2 separate regions of the Homo sapiens genome follow, and region 2 is linked to region 1. A link means that fine-mapping ties the variant in region 1 to the expression of a gene that starts in the linked region. Tissue or cell type: T cells. Region 1 holds a variant in brackets; the other region holds the start of a gene. All regions are shown on one strand. Distances are from middle to middle.

Region 1 (8,104 bases):
GATTTGAACACCTGCTGTGGCATGTGGAGCTGCCCCTTTGCTACCTGACTTACCTTCTCTCAAGAGTCTCACAACTCTTCCAAGGCCTGTCTGAATTGTCTATTTCTAGGTAATGTGATCAAGCTGGAGAAACAGAAGTCAGATCTGGGGAGGCAGCTAAAGACTCTGACTGAGCAGATACAGGGGAGATGTGGCAGGAGCCTTCACCACCATCTTCCTATAAATTACCCCTCCAAAGTCGGGATCACTCTCTCTATCCTGCTTTATCTTGGAACATTTTCATGACATGGGCCCTGAAACTGTAAGTTCTTGCCAGCAGGAAGTAAAGTCAAAGCAGTCATTTGTTGTCAGGATGGAGAGCTCTCATAACCTGAAGGTGTAATTTCCACCAGTGCCTTTTCCTAGCAGCAAGACACCGTGAAAGCAGGGCCTCACTAAGCACTGCTGGCTGTTCTTTCTTGGTGACTGATACAGGGGCTCTGGAGTCTCTGCTCAGGCACCAGCCCTGGCAGGCATCTGACACAGGGTTGGGCTCTGGCATTTTCAGAAGGAGACCATGGAATGGAGGTGGTTCCAGCCAGATCTGCAGACTGCGGTGGCAGTGGCCAACAATGTCAAGTGAGAAGCCCAGCAGGAGCTGGGCACTGTGAAGAGGAAACTGCTGAACTGCTGGAGGAGGAGGAGAAGGAGGAGGAGAATGCCTGGCTGCAGAAGGAGCTGGGGGATGTGCAGGGCTGCGGCAGGGTGGTTTCCAGCAGAGCTGCCCCTCCGTGAGTCTAGTGGGCACCCAGGCCATGCTTGCTTTTCACTTAATTACTGTGCGTGGGGCTCCCTGGTGGGGATGAGACGCTTCATGTCTCTCTGTGCAAGGCTCTGCTGTTTCTTTTCTGGGATCAGTCTGCATTACCAGTGCTACCGCATCACTAGGAACATTCCATCCAGTGCCCAGTTTCTGCCATGCTTAGCAGCATAAGGGGCTGCTAAGCTCCTCACTTACATATGAAGGGCGAGTTCTAGCCAAGTATCCTGCTAGGCTTAAAGAATAGAAGTCCTGTCTAGGATGCTCCTTGAATCTTAGTATTTATTAGTGCAGGGAGTGCACACTGATAAATACGAGCCCACCACCTTGCACAGGTCACTCCCATGCAGTGGGAGAAGCTGGAATCACTCCTGAGGGGAGGAGCCACCAAATAAGGACACATTCCTCCCGGCCCAGGGATGTGTCTACTTATTTGACAACACCCATGGGCTACTTCAACAGGCCTTGACATAACTCACTTTATTTTAAAAAGAGTGGAAAACATGCATTTGGCTGATGTATGACATTCCCCTCTGCTCTGGACGGGAAGAAACACACAGCCTATCAGCCCAGAGAGCTCTGCTAATAGTGACATTTAAGAGTATTTGGGACTACAGTTGCACCAGACAAGATCATTACTTTATAGCCGGACCTCTACCCTCTGGCCACCAAAGGATGTGGATTTTAGGAAAACTAGATTTTGCAGTGTTCCCTGTTGAAACAGCAGTGAGGCCATTCAGGGTGGCCTCTGTGTCTGCTGTTGTTTGTTTGCCTCTGTCTTGCTTCCCTATTGTCTGTCATTGGAAGAAGATCCCAGTCAGAACTTGTGTTGCTTCACATGGACGCTATTTTAATGATAAATGGTAAAAGGTAAGTCCTAAGTTTCCATGGTAGCCCTGAATAACCAGGTTCTTGTATGAGCTGCTTCATTTCTTATGTATACTGTGAGACACAGGCCATACCATGCAGTGTGAACCCTGGTATTCTAGGAAATCTCCGCATGCATCCTGGCAGTTTAGGACTCCCTATGCTGCATCCTGCATCTTCAGTCTTAACGTCATTGTTTTTTTAAACACAGAATTTTCTTTTTTGATTTTCCGGTGATTTGCAACATTACTTTCTCAATATAGCAGTTTAATCCCTTACCACAAAACATTTCAAATTTTGGAACTGACACCAATGAGAACGTGTCATGGTACTGAAATCAGGCATCATGATGATTTTGCCTGCCATTGTGTTTGGCAGGAAGTCAGACAAGTGCCAGTGATGGTTTCTTGTCTGATTTTGCACTTCTCTGGCAAGCTGTCACCTCTGAAGAGTTGACTATTGGGTAATTACTCGCTCATGGCTCGGTCACTCCTGGAACCTACCCCATGAGCAAGAACTAGAACCAACTCACACCCTCCAAGCTCCCGAAGCCAGCCAGTGTTTCCGTCTTGGCTGAATGAGTTCTTGATTGAAACTCAATTTGACTTTGGCAGTCATCTAATGAGAACTCAAAAGTCATCCTTGGTTCAGCCACAGCAAAAGAACTTGCAGAACATTCTCTGATGAGATCTTCAAGTACAACTGAGAGAAGGTAAGAACACCCAAAAAGCACCTGGATCCTGACACGGGATTACCTGATTCTTAAACTGTTTGCCCCCGTGGGCACTCACAGGGATGGTTGCAGCCAGGCTGATAGGCATGAGATGAAGCGCCCAGGCAGGAATGCAAATCAGCATTTATTACCGGAACTCAGTGACTACACAGTGGGATATTATCTAACTCATCAATGATCTTCAGCCCTGTTACACTTCAAAAATATTTTTATTTCAGAGTTAGAATAACTGATGTTAAGGTATATGGGGAAGGAAGGTGGTAGCCTCGTCTTTGCAGCCAACCAGCAGTATCTCATTCTCAGCCTCATGTTTGCAGCCAACTAGCAATATCTCGTTCCCAGCCCCGTCTCCTGCCTCTGTTAAAAGAGGTGGGAAAAGTGAGTAGTTTTCAAGGTCCGTTTAAGCTCTGCTATTCTCTGGACTGGTTGGTCAGCTGACCTTTCCCTGGTGGGAGAGTCAGAAATTCCTGTGCCAGCCTTAGCATCTTTCTGATGCAATCCTTTGAACCTCTTTGACACAGTGGTTTCCCCATTGTTGATGAGCAGTGCATGACACAAGGCTTCTCTAACAGCAGCGGGGAAAGACCTCTGCATTTACTGTGTTTGTTTATTTCTCTTGTTCTGAAACAGTAAATGCTGTTATTTCAGGGTGACTTACCTAATTCTTACAGTGTTTATATAACACCAGTAAACATCCATGGAAGGAAAACATCTTTAAAAGAGATCATTAAACACACTTAACATCTGTGCCTAATTAATGCTATTGGTATCTAAATAGAATGTCTGTGATTCGAATGTGTTTTGCCTGCACCACCAGTTCTTGGGTTGTCCCCTCTCGGAGGTGAGCACTGTGGCAGCACAGCATGTGCAGACTCCGCTGGAATTGGCTTAACTCCGTGTGTGCACATCAGTGTCAGCCCGAGCGTCGCTGCATGTGCCCGCACTGCCCTCTGTGTTGCTCTGATGGCTCTAATGGGTCACAGCCGCTTAGCACATGTTCTCCAGCTGCTGCGGAGAGGGGAAGGGCAGAAGTTGGAGGTATAGATTCTTGGGTCCCTAAGGTCCCTTTTCAAGCTCTCTTGCTGCAGATGCTCTGGTACCGAGCCCCTGTCCCAGGTGGAGGGGGCCCATTCCGCTAAGGATTCCTAAACAGTTTCTGAACAGACTTCACCTTAGCACCCATGACGAACAGGGGCTTCTGGCATTTAATTTGGCCCTTAATGTAGAACCTGGTCCTCTCATATCCTCTTACTCTAGCCAGCCTTATCTGTTGACTCACATAGTACTTTTTTTTTATAGTTTAGATTTATGACATACACAGTCTATAATTCTAAATAGCTGTGTCTGCCTCCCTATTCCCTAATCCGCATCTTTACAGATTTGAACGGTGTGGACATAAGCTTCTCTTAGGCCTTTAGGATTTTTAGGTTGAAATTATGAAAGAAAAAAAGTTTTTTGGCCTTGACAGTAGAGGGGAAGCACAAGCCTCTCTGTAAATTCTGGAGGGGCCTGTGGTGTTCATCATGGGCATCTCTGCTTCACCACACAGTTCTTTGTTGGAGAAGTTCTGGTGGAGGAGCCTAGTACAGGCATTTGTAGTCTGACATTTTTTTATGTCCGAAAACCTTTGGCTTCCAAAAAATTGGAACAGTAGGAATTAAAACCCATTGGCCTGTCCTGGACATTAGCTTGTCCCCGTAGGGCAGTGTAAGCTGGAAATTCTTGCGTTTGTGAACTAAGACCGTGTTGCCTTAGGGTAACTCCTTTACAGCCTCTCCCTCCCCATTTCTATTTTCACCTCTCAGTGGGCTCTGTCAGCTAGCAGAGCATTTGGTGGAAGAAAGACAGCCCAGCTCTTCCCATGATTGGGATCCACAGCCATCTCTGTATGAAAGGGGGAATGTGTAGAAGAGAAATTACCTCTTTATAAAGAGCCCAGGTGTCTCCTTGTGACATTCACTGTTTCTCGGAACCATTGCCTTTGAGTCTGCTTTTTGTCCACATTTTGGAATCAGCTCACTGCATGATCAAAGATGATCCTTCACTCTTTTTTCTTTTTCTCAGAAGCTTCAGCAGTCTTTTATTTGGAGAATAAAATGAAGTTGTACTGAAAAAAGAAAGTACAGGTCTCATGAAGAAGAGTTATTTGCAGCTGGAATGTTGAGAAGGCACAGTGGCAGAGCAGATCTGAGTAATGCTTATTCCGAAGAAGTCAAAAAGTTTGGCTTCCTTCTGTGGGGTCTTGATTGTGCCTCTTCACACAGGGTCTGACTTCATTACCTCATCTGAAACTAAGTACCACTAAGCTTTGGTTTGATTTCCAGAATCTTGCTGGGCTAAACGCAAGTAGATGTTTCGTTCATTGTTGGGAATAGGCCCCCAAAATCTGGCCATAAACTGGCCCCCAAACTGGCCATAAACAAAATCTCTGCAGCACTGTGACATGTTTGTGATGGCCATGACGCCCA[C/T]GCTGAAGGTTGTGGGTTTACCGGAATGAGGACAAGGAACACCTGGCCCACCCAGGGCAGAAAACCGCTTAAAGGCGTTCTTAAACCACAAACAATAGCATGATCGATCTGTTTAAGGAGAGCATGCTCCTGCTGCTGATAACTAGCCAGAGCCCATCCCTTTATTTCGGCACATCCCTTTGTTTCCCGTAAGGAATAGTCTTAGTTAATCTATATAGAAACAATGCTTATCACTGGCTTGCTGTCAGTAAATATGTGGGTAAATCTCTGTTTGAGGCTCTCAGCTCTGAAGGCTTGAGACCCCTGATTTCCCACTCCACACCTCTATGTTGCTGTGTGTGTGTCTTTAATTCCTCTAGTGCCACTGGGTTAGGGTCTCCCAACCAAGCTGGTCTCAGCAGTTGATCATAAAGGATGCTGTTAAGCCAGATAGGTAAGCATGGTGACAGTGGCAATAGAAATCTAATGGAAAACGGTTGAATGACAACTACACCAAAAGCCTCATGGATGAAACTCAGCCTGGAAACTTAGTGTTCAACTCAGAGCGATCCACAATTTTATGTGGATTTTAAACTTCCAGAAATGTGATTTTAAACTTCCGGGAATACCTGTGTTTGTGAAGATCCAAATCCATTTCAGCAACCTCCATCAGGCAGAAACCTCCTGCAGTTCTCAGCATGGAGCTATTAGCTATCCAAAGGAAAGCTAGTATCTATTTTATCCAAAGGATGAGACAAGGCAAGAGTTACTGTCTAATAAAAGGAAAATTAGGAACAGGAGTGCTCTTTAAACTCAGGAAGATGTTTTGGGGTGTCAAACCAGACAGCACAGAATCACTAGAAACATTAGCTTGGTGTGAGAAAGAAGAGACATTGATATCTTCTGTGTAAAAATAAATACTTGCGAGTAGGACTGTAGATTCTGGGAGCTCTTTATCTCGTATTCAGAGTTGTTGGGATGATTTAAAACTCATTTGCTGGATGTTTTTAAATATAAACAGTAAGAAAACTGCAACCTCAACTTAAAAGGCACCACTGTATTTGCAGCCCACATTTTGTCCTATCTTTACTCCAGGTACTGCTGAGTATTTTTATCTGTAAGCATTTGTAAAATGCTAAATAATGTTGTTATACAGAAGCTCGTCTGCTGCTTAAGGTTTTTTTTTTTTTTTTGAGACGGAGTCTCGCTCTATCGCCCAGGCTGGAGTGCAGTGGCGCAGTCTCAGCTCACTAACCTCCATCTCCCGGGTTCACGCCATTCTCTTGCCTCAGCCTCCTGAGTAGCTGGGACTACAGGTGCTGGCCACCACACCCAGCTAATTTTTTATATTTTTAGTAGAGACGGAGTTTCACCGTGTTGGTCAGGATGGTCTGGATCTCCTGACCTTGTGATCTGTCCACCTCGGCCTCCCAGAGTGCTGGGATTACAGGCGTGAGCCACCGCGCCCGGCCTGCTGCTTGAGTTTTAATCACCAGCTATGTTTCTGCAGGGCCTTTATGTCATTTTGTTCTACATTTTTTCATGAATATAGTTTCAGAACTTCAAAGCCTCCTCAAATAATAGAATTTGAAGGAGAAACAAGCTGGACTTTAAATATAAGTTGTAGATAGAAGGTTGAGCTGGGATATGAATGATTTTATTATTAGAACAAGAGGACGTGGAGCAAAAACACTAGTTTTGCATAAATTAATTTTTAAGCAAAACTGTAGAATCTCAGAAAATATAGTATGGACTTTTTAGTCTAGATGTTTCTTGTTGAAATTTAAAAATGAATAGATTGGTGAATTAATGTATTGGATTTTCTCCTAATTATGAAGTAATATTTAGGTATACTGGTAGCAAAATGGAGATGTGTCAAGAAAAATACTAATCTTTCTCCTCCTTCAGTACTCACCCTGCAAGGAAATCACTGGTAACAGTGTGTATATTTTTTGTTAATCATAAAATGTATAGGCTTCATTTATATATGTTTAAATATAAACAGGACTATGTTCTACACAGTATGCTGCACCTTCACTTTTTATTTCATGTAACATGGGCATCCTTCCAGGTCAATACATACAAAGAGAACTCATTTTAAGAGCTGCATGGCCTTCCACAGGAGGGATGTGCCCTGGAATATTCAAATATTGTCTTACTAATGCCAGCAAGGTTATAGTTTTCTTTGTTACGAATAATGCTATAATACGAGTCCTTATTCATATAGTCCTATATAGTTGTGATTTTATTTTTATAGCATGAATTTCTAAAACTATGACTGCTGCTCTAGAGAATATACACATTTTTATCTTAATAGATGTCTCCAGGTTACTCACCTGACTGCTGTGACATTTCACTTTCTTTTTTTTGTTTGTTTTTTTGAGATGGAGTCTCGCTCTGTCGCCCAGGCTGGAGTGCAGTGGCACGATCTTGGCTTACTGCAAGCTCCGCCTCCCGGGTCCACACCATTCTCCTGCCTCAGCCTCCGGAGTAGCTGGAACTACAGGCGCCCGCCACCACGCCCGGCTAATTTTTTGTATTTTTTAGTAGAGACGGGGTTTCACCGTGTTAGCCAGGATGGTCTCGATCTCCTGACCTCGTGATCGGCCTGCCTTGGCCTCCCAAAGTGCTGGGATTACAGGCGTGAGCCACCGCACCTGGCCGACATTTCACTCTTGATGAACGTGCCCATCTCTGCATAGTCTGAGCAGCCACAGAAAGTGTTGATCTTATTTTTGCCAATAGGATAAGTGAAAAATACTATCTTATTAGATTTTAATTTGTATATCTCTGAGCATATTTTTATGTGTACTAACCAATTGCACTTTCTCTTCTAGAGTTGCTAGTTTAGCACTTTTGCCTATTATTTCACTGAGCTGATTGTTTCTTTCTCATCAGTTTATAAGTCAGTATTTTATTAGGGATGTCGGGGTTTTTTTGTTTCGTTTTGTTTTGGGGGGGTTGTTTTTTGTTGTTGTTGTTTTGAGACAGGGTCTTGCTTTGTCACCCAGGCTGGAGTGCAGTGGCACGATCACAGCTCACTGAAGCCTTGACCTCCCAGGCGCAAATGATCCTCCTACTCAGCCTCCCAAATAGCGGGGACGACAGGCGAACACCACCATGCCTTCCTAATTCGAATTTTTGTCCAGCTGGGATGTCACTTTATTGCCGAGGCTGGTCTTCAACTCCTGGGCTTGAGTGATCCTCCCACCTTAGTCTCCCAAATCACTGGAATTATAATTGTGAATCACTGTGCTT
Region 2 (8,097 bases), 470 kb after region 1:
GACAGGGTCTCACTTTGTCACCCAGGCTGGAGTGCAGTGGTGCAATCATAGCTCACTGCAGCCTCAAACTCCTGTGCTCAAGTGATCCTCCCACCTCAGCCTCCCAGGTAGCTGGGACTACAGGCACATGTCACCAAGCCCCACTAATTTTTTTAAAAAATTTATTCGTAGAGATGGGGGTCTCACTATGTTGCCGAGGCTGGTTTTGAACTCCTGGGTTTAAGGGATCCTTCCATCTTGGCCTCCCGAAGTGCTGCAGTTACAGGTGTGTGCCCCCTTGTTCGGCTGTGTTGGCATCTGTTCATTGTGTTTTCTTTTCTTTTCTTTCTTTTTTTTTTTTTGAGATGAAGTTTTGCTCTTGTTGCCCCAGCTGGAGTGCAATGGCGTGATCTCGGCTCACCACAACCTCTGCCTCCCGGTTTCAAGTGATTCTCCTGCCTTAGCCTCCGAGTAGCTGGGATTATAGGCATGTGCCACCATGCCCGGCTAATTTTTGTATTTTTAACAGAGACGGGGTTTCACCATGTTGGTCAGGCTGGTCTTGAACTCCTGACCTCAGGTGATCCACCCACCTTGGCCTCCCAAAGTGCTGGGATTACAGGCGCGAGCCACCACGCCCAGCTGTTGATTGTGTTTTCTCATTGAAGTTTAGATTTTCCCATTTCTTGGTATAATGAGTGCTTTTTGGTGGAAACCTGGACTTTGGGGTGTCATAAGACTCTGGATCTCATTTAAATCTTGTGTTTTAGCAGGCTTCCTGACCCACTTTGGCAGGGGAAGGGGATGCCTCTTCATTATTGCCAAGTAGGGGTGGAAGTCCAGGTTTTCCACTTGGCCTTTGTTGACACGTGGAGGGAGGTTGTTTGGCACAAGTGGGAGTTCAGGCTCTCCAGTTGGCCTCCAGGGATACCACCCTTGCTGGGATGGGGAGGGGACCTCCACTGATATGTGGGGTGGGAGGTGGCTTTGTTGCAACTGAGTGACGTTGAAAGTCCTGACTCTCCACTTGGCTCCCTATGGGGACAAGAGTGACTATTTTCAATGCGAATCCGCTAACTCCAATTCCAGGAATGCCTCCAAAATGTCTAGTTGATGTATTACTCTTTATACCGGATCACCTATTCACTGTAACTTTTGCCTTTTTACAGAAACAACCCTTGATGCTGTTGCAGAAATCATAGGTTGTGACACCCACAGCATTCTCTCAACCATCTACACATTCCTCCAAGAGTAAGTATATTTTTTCCCCAAGATATAAGCCCTGGTTCTACGGGGCTACTGTGTGGAGATCCACCTGCCTTGTGGACACCCAAGACCATGCTTCTGTCTGTAAGCTCCCTCTAATAATTATCCTATATGGACAAACTGGATTTGTCTGCTTCCTACGTTTTCTCAGCTCCTTGGGCATTTGGGGGTGGCTTTGGGGGTGGCTTTGATGGAACACTCTCTCTGACATCACCCCAGGGAAGAGGATGAGTGCTTTCTTACAATTAAGTGGGGTAGAAGTCCAGGTTCTCCATATGGTTTCCACTGATACCATGCTGGGGGAGAGTCTCCTCACCTCTCAGTGGGAATGAAAATCCAGCCCTCGGCCGGGCGCGGTGGCTCACGCCTATAATCCCAGCACTTCAGGAGGCCGAGGTGGGTGGATCACAGGCTCAAGAGATCAAGACCATCCTGGCCAATATGGTGAAACCCCGTCTCTACTAAAAATACAAAAATTAGCCAGGCGTGGTGGCGTGAGCCTGTAATCCCAGCTACTCAGGAGGCTGAGGCAGGAGAATTGCTTGAACCCAGGAGGCAGAGGTTGCAGTGAGCCGAGATTGTGCCACTGCACTCCAGCTTGGGTGAGAGAACCAGACTCCGTCTCAAAAAAAAAAGAAAAAATAAAAAATAAAAATAAAAAGAAAATCCAGCCCTCCACTTGGCCTTCTCTGACACCATGCCAGGGAGAGGGGACAGTGGTGCCTCTTTACAGCCTAGCATGCGTGGCAGTCTAGGCTTTCCAAGAGGCAAGCATGGGGATGGGGCTTTTTCTGTGGTTTGGGCTGGATTAGAGCCATTATTGTGTAAACGTTTTCTGTCCTCTGAGGCTGCCCATTTCCTGGTCCTGTGGCTAGAGAGAGAAGGCTTTTCTTAGGGCATTGTCTTTGCCTGTCGGCATTTCCAGGTTGCTTGCTTCCTAGCACCCAGTCTGGGATATATAAGGCAACACCCACCATGTTGTTCCTTGCGTCCCAGGGTGGCTAGCTGGTTTGCCTTCTCTCCAACTTTTGGAGTCTTAGATTGTTTTATATATAATGCCCACAATTTTTAGTTGTACTTAGTAAAAGGAATAGGGAAAATTGTGTCTAGTTCATCTTCCTGGAAACAAAAATCTTCCATCTTGTTTTCATAGAAGGCCATGGAACTGTGCTAACCACTGGAATCTATTTGTTTTGTTTGTTTGTTTGAGATGGAGTCTCGCTGTGTTGCCCAGGCTGGAGTGCAGTGGCATGATCTCTGCTCACTGCAACCTCCACCTCCTGGTTTCAAGTGATTCTCCTTCCTCAGCCTCCTGAGTAGCTGGGACTACAGGTAAACGACACCATGCCTGGCTGATTTTTTTGTATTTTTAGTAGATGGGGTTTCCCCATGTTGGCCAGGCTGATCTCAAACTCCCGACCTCAGGTGATCCGCCTGCCTCAGCCTTCCAAAATGCTGGATTACAGGTGTGAGCCACTGCACCCGGCCCACTGGAATCCTTTTTGTATAATATCCTGGCTGCGAAGTTAGAGTTTTTACACTTGCATTTGGCAGATGCAATTCAAATTGGTTACCAAAACTTTGAAATATATTGAGTTGCTTCTAAAACAAATTCCATGCAGGATTGAAGAGTGGGTAGGCTAAGAGGGTAGCAGGCCTGGGAAATGAACCCCAGGAAACTGACTTAGTCATGCAATAAAGACTCAGGTGTTACCAGTGGAGAGTGTCCAGGTTCTTGGCGTTTTGAACAAACAATTGGACAAAACGCACAAACAAAGCAAGGAAAGAATGATGCAACAAAAGCAGAGATTTATTGAAAACAAAAGCACACTCCACAGGTTGGGAGCCTGCCTAGCAGGTGGCTCAAGAGCCCGGTTACAGAATTTTCTGGAGTTTAAATACCCTCTAGAGGGTTCCCGTTGGTTACTTGGTGTACACTCTATGTAAAAGAAGTAGTGGCCTGTGATCAGCCTGATTGGTTGCAAGAGGGGACCAATCAGAGGTACCTTCAATTTTTCATCTGCCAGGCAGAAAAGCGGGGCAGGTTGCAAAGGGACTAGCTTCTGTTCCTTTTGTTACCTGGGCATGGAAAGTTCGGGTTTTCCTTTTGATTTAGTTCTAGGAAGTCAGCGTGAATTGGCCTTAGGTTCCCTGTCTCCAGACCCTATTTTTCTGCCTTACGGTTCATATTGGGTTTGCTACAAGGATATTCAAACTTTGTGAATTGGCAAGCAGGAATCTAGAGTTTCCAGAACAATGGAGAGGGGCCAGAAAGGTATAAAAACTTTTGTGAAAACGTCAAAAATAAATATTTAGTTAAAAATAAAATTTCCCATTTTCAGATTTTGTGAATATCTGTAAGAATTTCCAGGATATATTAATTCGCTAAAGTTAATAAAAGCAAGAAACAGAAGGACGTTTCAGAATGCTATTGTTTGTGTAACAAGGGGGTGCTGAATACATACATAATTGCTTGGTTATGAATAAACTGGCTCTGGAAGGACACACATAGCTAATAGCATCGTTACCTAGGGGGAGGTGAAGTGGGTCCTGGAGAACAGAAAGGGAGATTTTCCACCTTACACACATTTGCCATCTTATGATTTTGAACGATAAGAGTCCCCCCGCCCCTTCCTTCCTCTGCCCTGCCCCTTCCTTCCTCTGCCCTTTACTCTCTCAATATCCTCTTTTCATGCTTTTTTTTTTTTTTTAAATCACTTCGGGTCCTTTAAAAAATTTACTTGCAAGAAGTACGTACATATTCTGAATAAAATTCATTTTCAGATATATGTATTACAAATATCTTGTCTGTTCTATTGTCTTTCCCTTTTCTCAATGGGGTCTTTTCGGTGTCTTATAGTTACAGACACCCAATTTATCAGCTTTTTCCTTTAGGACTGGCACTTTTTGTGTTCTGCTAACACGTTATTTTCCTCTCTTATGGTCATAATATTCTGCGATTTTATTGTCTAGAGTTGTATTGTTCACATTCAGGTCTACCATCCGTCTAGAATTATTTTACTTGAGATAGGAGTCAAGGTTCATTTCCCCCCAATCGACCTTCAATTGACCTAGCACTATATATTGAAAAAACTCTTCTTATTGCATTACAGTGGCTACTTGTAGGAGGAAAAAGTGACTACATAGCTGCAGGTCTGTTTCTGGTCTCTCTCTTTTTCATTCATTGTTTTTACCTTTGTGCCAGTTATCACACTGTTCTGATTACTGTGGCATTATAATCATCTTGATAACTGTATCGTGAATTCTCCAACTGTGTTCTTCGCCGGAAGTCCACGGAACACCAACCACGACCTTCGGAATTTCCCTCCGGAAGATGAAGGCACTGTAGTTATGCGGGTGGACCCTATCAGATCTCGGGTCCATCGGGTCCTGTGTACACCTTGAGGGACGCCCACCCAACGCGCATGCGCAGCCTCAATGCTGGGATTGGACGGAGCCTCGCCGGCTGCGTACACGTCACTTCCGAGGCGGGAGGATGAAGTTGATTGACTATGGTCTCTCCGGCTACCAGGTAGGGGCTGGGGAAGAAGGAACCTCCGAGATGAGGCGATAGGGTCTGGCCTTGAGCTGAGGCGACGCCCCGGCTTGGGTGAGGGGAAGCGGTGTAGTGGTCGAGCTAAGGCCGCGGGCCCTGGGCGGCTTCCGGATCCCCGCGACGCCGAACTCTGAAGGAAGACTCAGCCCAGGCGCTGGGACCAGAGCCCTGGCTCCGGCGAGTGCGTGGCGGGGAAACCCGCCTGTCGCCGAGGTGTCTTGAGTCCAGTTTCCGCTGCTGGGAATGGGTGTCGCGCCGGGCGCTGTGTGTGAAAGGCCTCGCGCCCACAGGGCTCCTGGCTTCAACCTGTTTATTCCCACATTTCTGCGCGACGTAGGGGAGGCTCCGCAGCGTCTGCGAGTGGCAGGACCGAGGGTTGAGCGCTGGGGGCCAGTGGCACCTTAGCCAGTGACGGCGAGTTAGGACTAGCAAAGGAAGTCCGGTTTTTCAGAAGGCAGGAGGAGGGTGCTGACTCGAGCGTCCACGGGAATGGCTGGTTGAGATATCTTGCTCTTCCAATACTTACTCTGCGGCTTCCTGGCTGTGCGGCTTTGGGCAAATGTTTTAAACTCTGAGTGTTTCTTCAGCTGTAACTTTGGGAGTAACAAGCCCACTCATAAGGTTGTTGTGAAGCGTAAATGAGACTGCGCGTGCAAGGTGCTCAGCTGGTGTCTGGCACATAGTAGGTATTCAACAAATGGTAGCCACATAATGCTCTTTTTTTCAGTTTCCAAACCTTCCATGTAGTGATTGGAGAATCGTGAAGTTACTTTTGAAGTAACGTTTGGGTTTCACACACTCATACATTTAGTAAGCAGAATTCTTGCTTACACTGTTGCCGATTGCAACGGTGTGTTTGCATAATGGAAGCTATGTTTGTGCCTTTGCCAAGGGTGTGGAATATGCCTTCCCTACCATGTACATGTCCCCTTTTCTCCATTCCTTAATAATAGTTGATATTTTTTGAGTGTTTGCTATGTTACAGGCACTGTACTAATCCCTTTACTGAATTATTCAATCCTGTAATAACCCTAATCATAGGAACTATAATTTTTATTTATGGAGGGAGAAATGGGCTTAGAGATGTTAAGAAGTTTATCCAAAGGCATAGAGCTATTAGCCAGGCAAGGTAGCACACGCCTGTAGTCCCAGCTATTTGTTGGGGCTGAGGCAAGTGGATTGCTTGAACCTGGGAGACAGGCTGCAGTGAGCCGAGATCACGCCATTGCATTCAAGTCTGGGTGACAAAGTGAGACCCTGTCTTGGCTGGGCGCAGTGGCTCACACATGTAATCCCAGCACTTTAGGAGGCTGAGGCGGGCGGATCACCTGAGGTCAGGAGTTCGAGACCAGCCTGGCCAACGTGGTGAAACCCCGTCTCTACTAAAAAATACAAAAATTGGCTGGGCGCGGTGGCTCACGCCTGTATTTCCAGCACTTTGGGAGGCCAAGGCGGGCGGATCACGAGGTCAGGACCTCGAGACCATCCTGGCTAACACGGTGAAACCCCGTCTCTACTAAAAAAATTCAAAAAAATTGGCTGGGCTTGGTGGCGGGCGTCTGTAGTCCCAGCTACTAGGGAGGCTGAGGCAGGAGAATGGCGTGCTCCGGATGGCGGAGCTTGCAGTGAGCCGAGATCCCGCCGCTGCACTCCAGCCTGGGCGACATAGTGAGACTCTGTCTCAAAACAAACAAACAAACAAAAATTAGCCGGGCGTGGTGGTGGGCGCCTGTAATCCCAGCTACTCGGGAGGCTTTGGCAGGAGAATCGCTTGAACCTGGGAGGCAGAGGTTGCAGTGAGCCGAGATGCCGCCACTGCATTCCAGCCTGGGCGACAAGAGCGAGGAGACTCCGTCTTAAAAAAAAAAAAAAAAAAAAAGTGACACCCTGTCTCAAACAACAACAACAACAACAACAAACAACAACAAAGGCATAGAGCTAGTAAAGGCCGATCCAATGCCATGTCACTCCAGAACCTAGCGCTTAGCTACAAATTTCATTCATTCCTTCAGATACTTATTGAACGTTTACAGTGTACCAGCATTGTGCTGGGTGTTGTGGATACAATGATGATCAAAACAGATAAAGCCCCTGTCTTTAAATTGCTTATAAATCTAGCAAGGGAGATAGTAAATATATAAATAAAACTAAATATTAATTACGATTGTGATGCATGCTGTGGAGGACAGTAGAGGGTGCTGTGAGGATACATAATGGAGTCACCGGCATGCGGAGGGGGAAATGAGGAGAGACAGGGAAGGCTTTCCCAAGAAAATAATATTTAGCTGAGACTTAAAGGACTGAGTTGGAGTTAAATTGGACAAAGAGCTAACAGGAGGAGGGAAGGGCATGTGTGAGGTCTTGAGACTAGGAGGAGCTTGTATCTTGTTACTTAAAGACCCCTGTGAGGCTGTAGGTGGTGGCTCACACCTATAATCCGAGCGCTTTGGGAGGCTGAGGTGGGAGGATCATGTGAGGCCAGGAGTTTGAGACTAGCCTGGGCAACATAGGGAGACCCCATTTCTACAAAAAATAAAAAATTATCTAGGCGTGCTGGTGTGTACCTGTTGTCCCAGTTACTCAGAAGGCTGAGTCAGGAGGATCACTTGAGCCCAGGAGTTTGCGGCTACAGTAAACTGTGATAATACTACGGCACTCCAGCCTGGGCAGCAGAGTAAGACCCTGACTCAAAAAAAAAAAAAAAAAAAAGAAAAAGAAAAAAATAAGCATTAAACCAGACTGGAATGTATTATGGATAATATGCTAATGCAGTTTCTTTCAGAAAAGAAATCCCACCACTTATTTGTATGCAGCTGAGCAGATACAACCCATTATGTAGTCTCAAGATTAATGGTAATTTGTCCTCTTATAAGAAGACTTGACAGCACCATTTGCTGTACATGTTTTCATAGTTCATTCTAAATTCACCTGGTAATTGGGTTGGTCATCTGTGCTACCTAGTTACTTTTTTCCAAAGGAAAACATGAAACAGCTCTATGATAAAACAAGTAGTTGAGGTGCCTAGGCTAAACTTCCACAGTGATAGGGATAGGGCTGGGGCATTGTCTTCCTGGATATTTCCATTTAAAATAGGGGGTTTGGCTGAGCACGGTGGCTCACGCCTGTAATCCCAGTACTTTGGGAGGCTGAGGAGGGCAGATCACCTGAGGTCAGGAGTTCGAGACCAGCCTGGCCAACATGGCGAACCCCGTCTCTATTAAAAATACAAAAATGTGTGGTGGCGTGTGCCTGTAATCCCAGCTACTCAGGAGGCTGAGGCAGGAGAATCGCTTGAA

What was found. PIP is the estimated chance that this variant, and not a neighbour inherited with it, causes the effect.
Region 2: it holds the start of DHRS7B, and the variant in region 1 is fine-mapped to the expression of DHRS7B in T cells (TOPMed, PIP 0.95).

Annotation. Positions count from the first base shown.
Region 1 is chr17:20,651,430-20,659,533 of GRCh38, forward strand. It overlaps LOC105371583 (a long non-coding RNA gene), which reads right to left. Exons shown (of 3, transcript XR_934317.3): 2 at 4,320-4,506. It also overlaps the pseudogene LOC100287072 and the pseudogene LOC729334. Among named protein-coding and RNA genes, the nearest start is that of LINC02088, 22 kb to the left of the region's middle. The variant C/T (reference allele first, on the strand shown) is at 4,868.
Region 2 is chr17:21,122,215-21,130,311 of GRCh38, forward strand. It overlaps DHRS7B (dehydrogenase/reductase 7B), which reads left to right and starts at 4,750. Exons shown (of 7, transcript NM_015510.5): 1 at 4,750-4,777. The coding sequence starts at 4,758. RefSeq lists an enhancer at 4,412-5,071.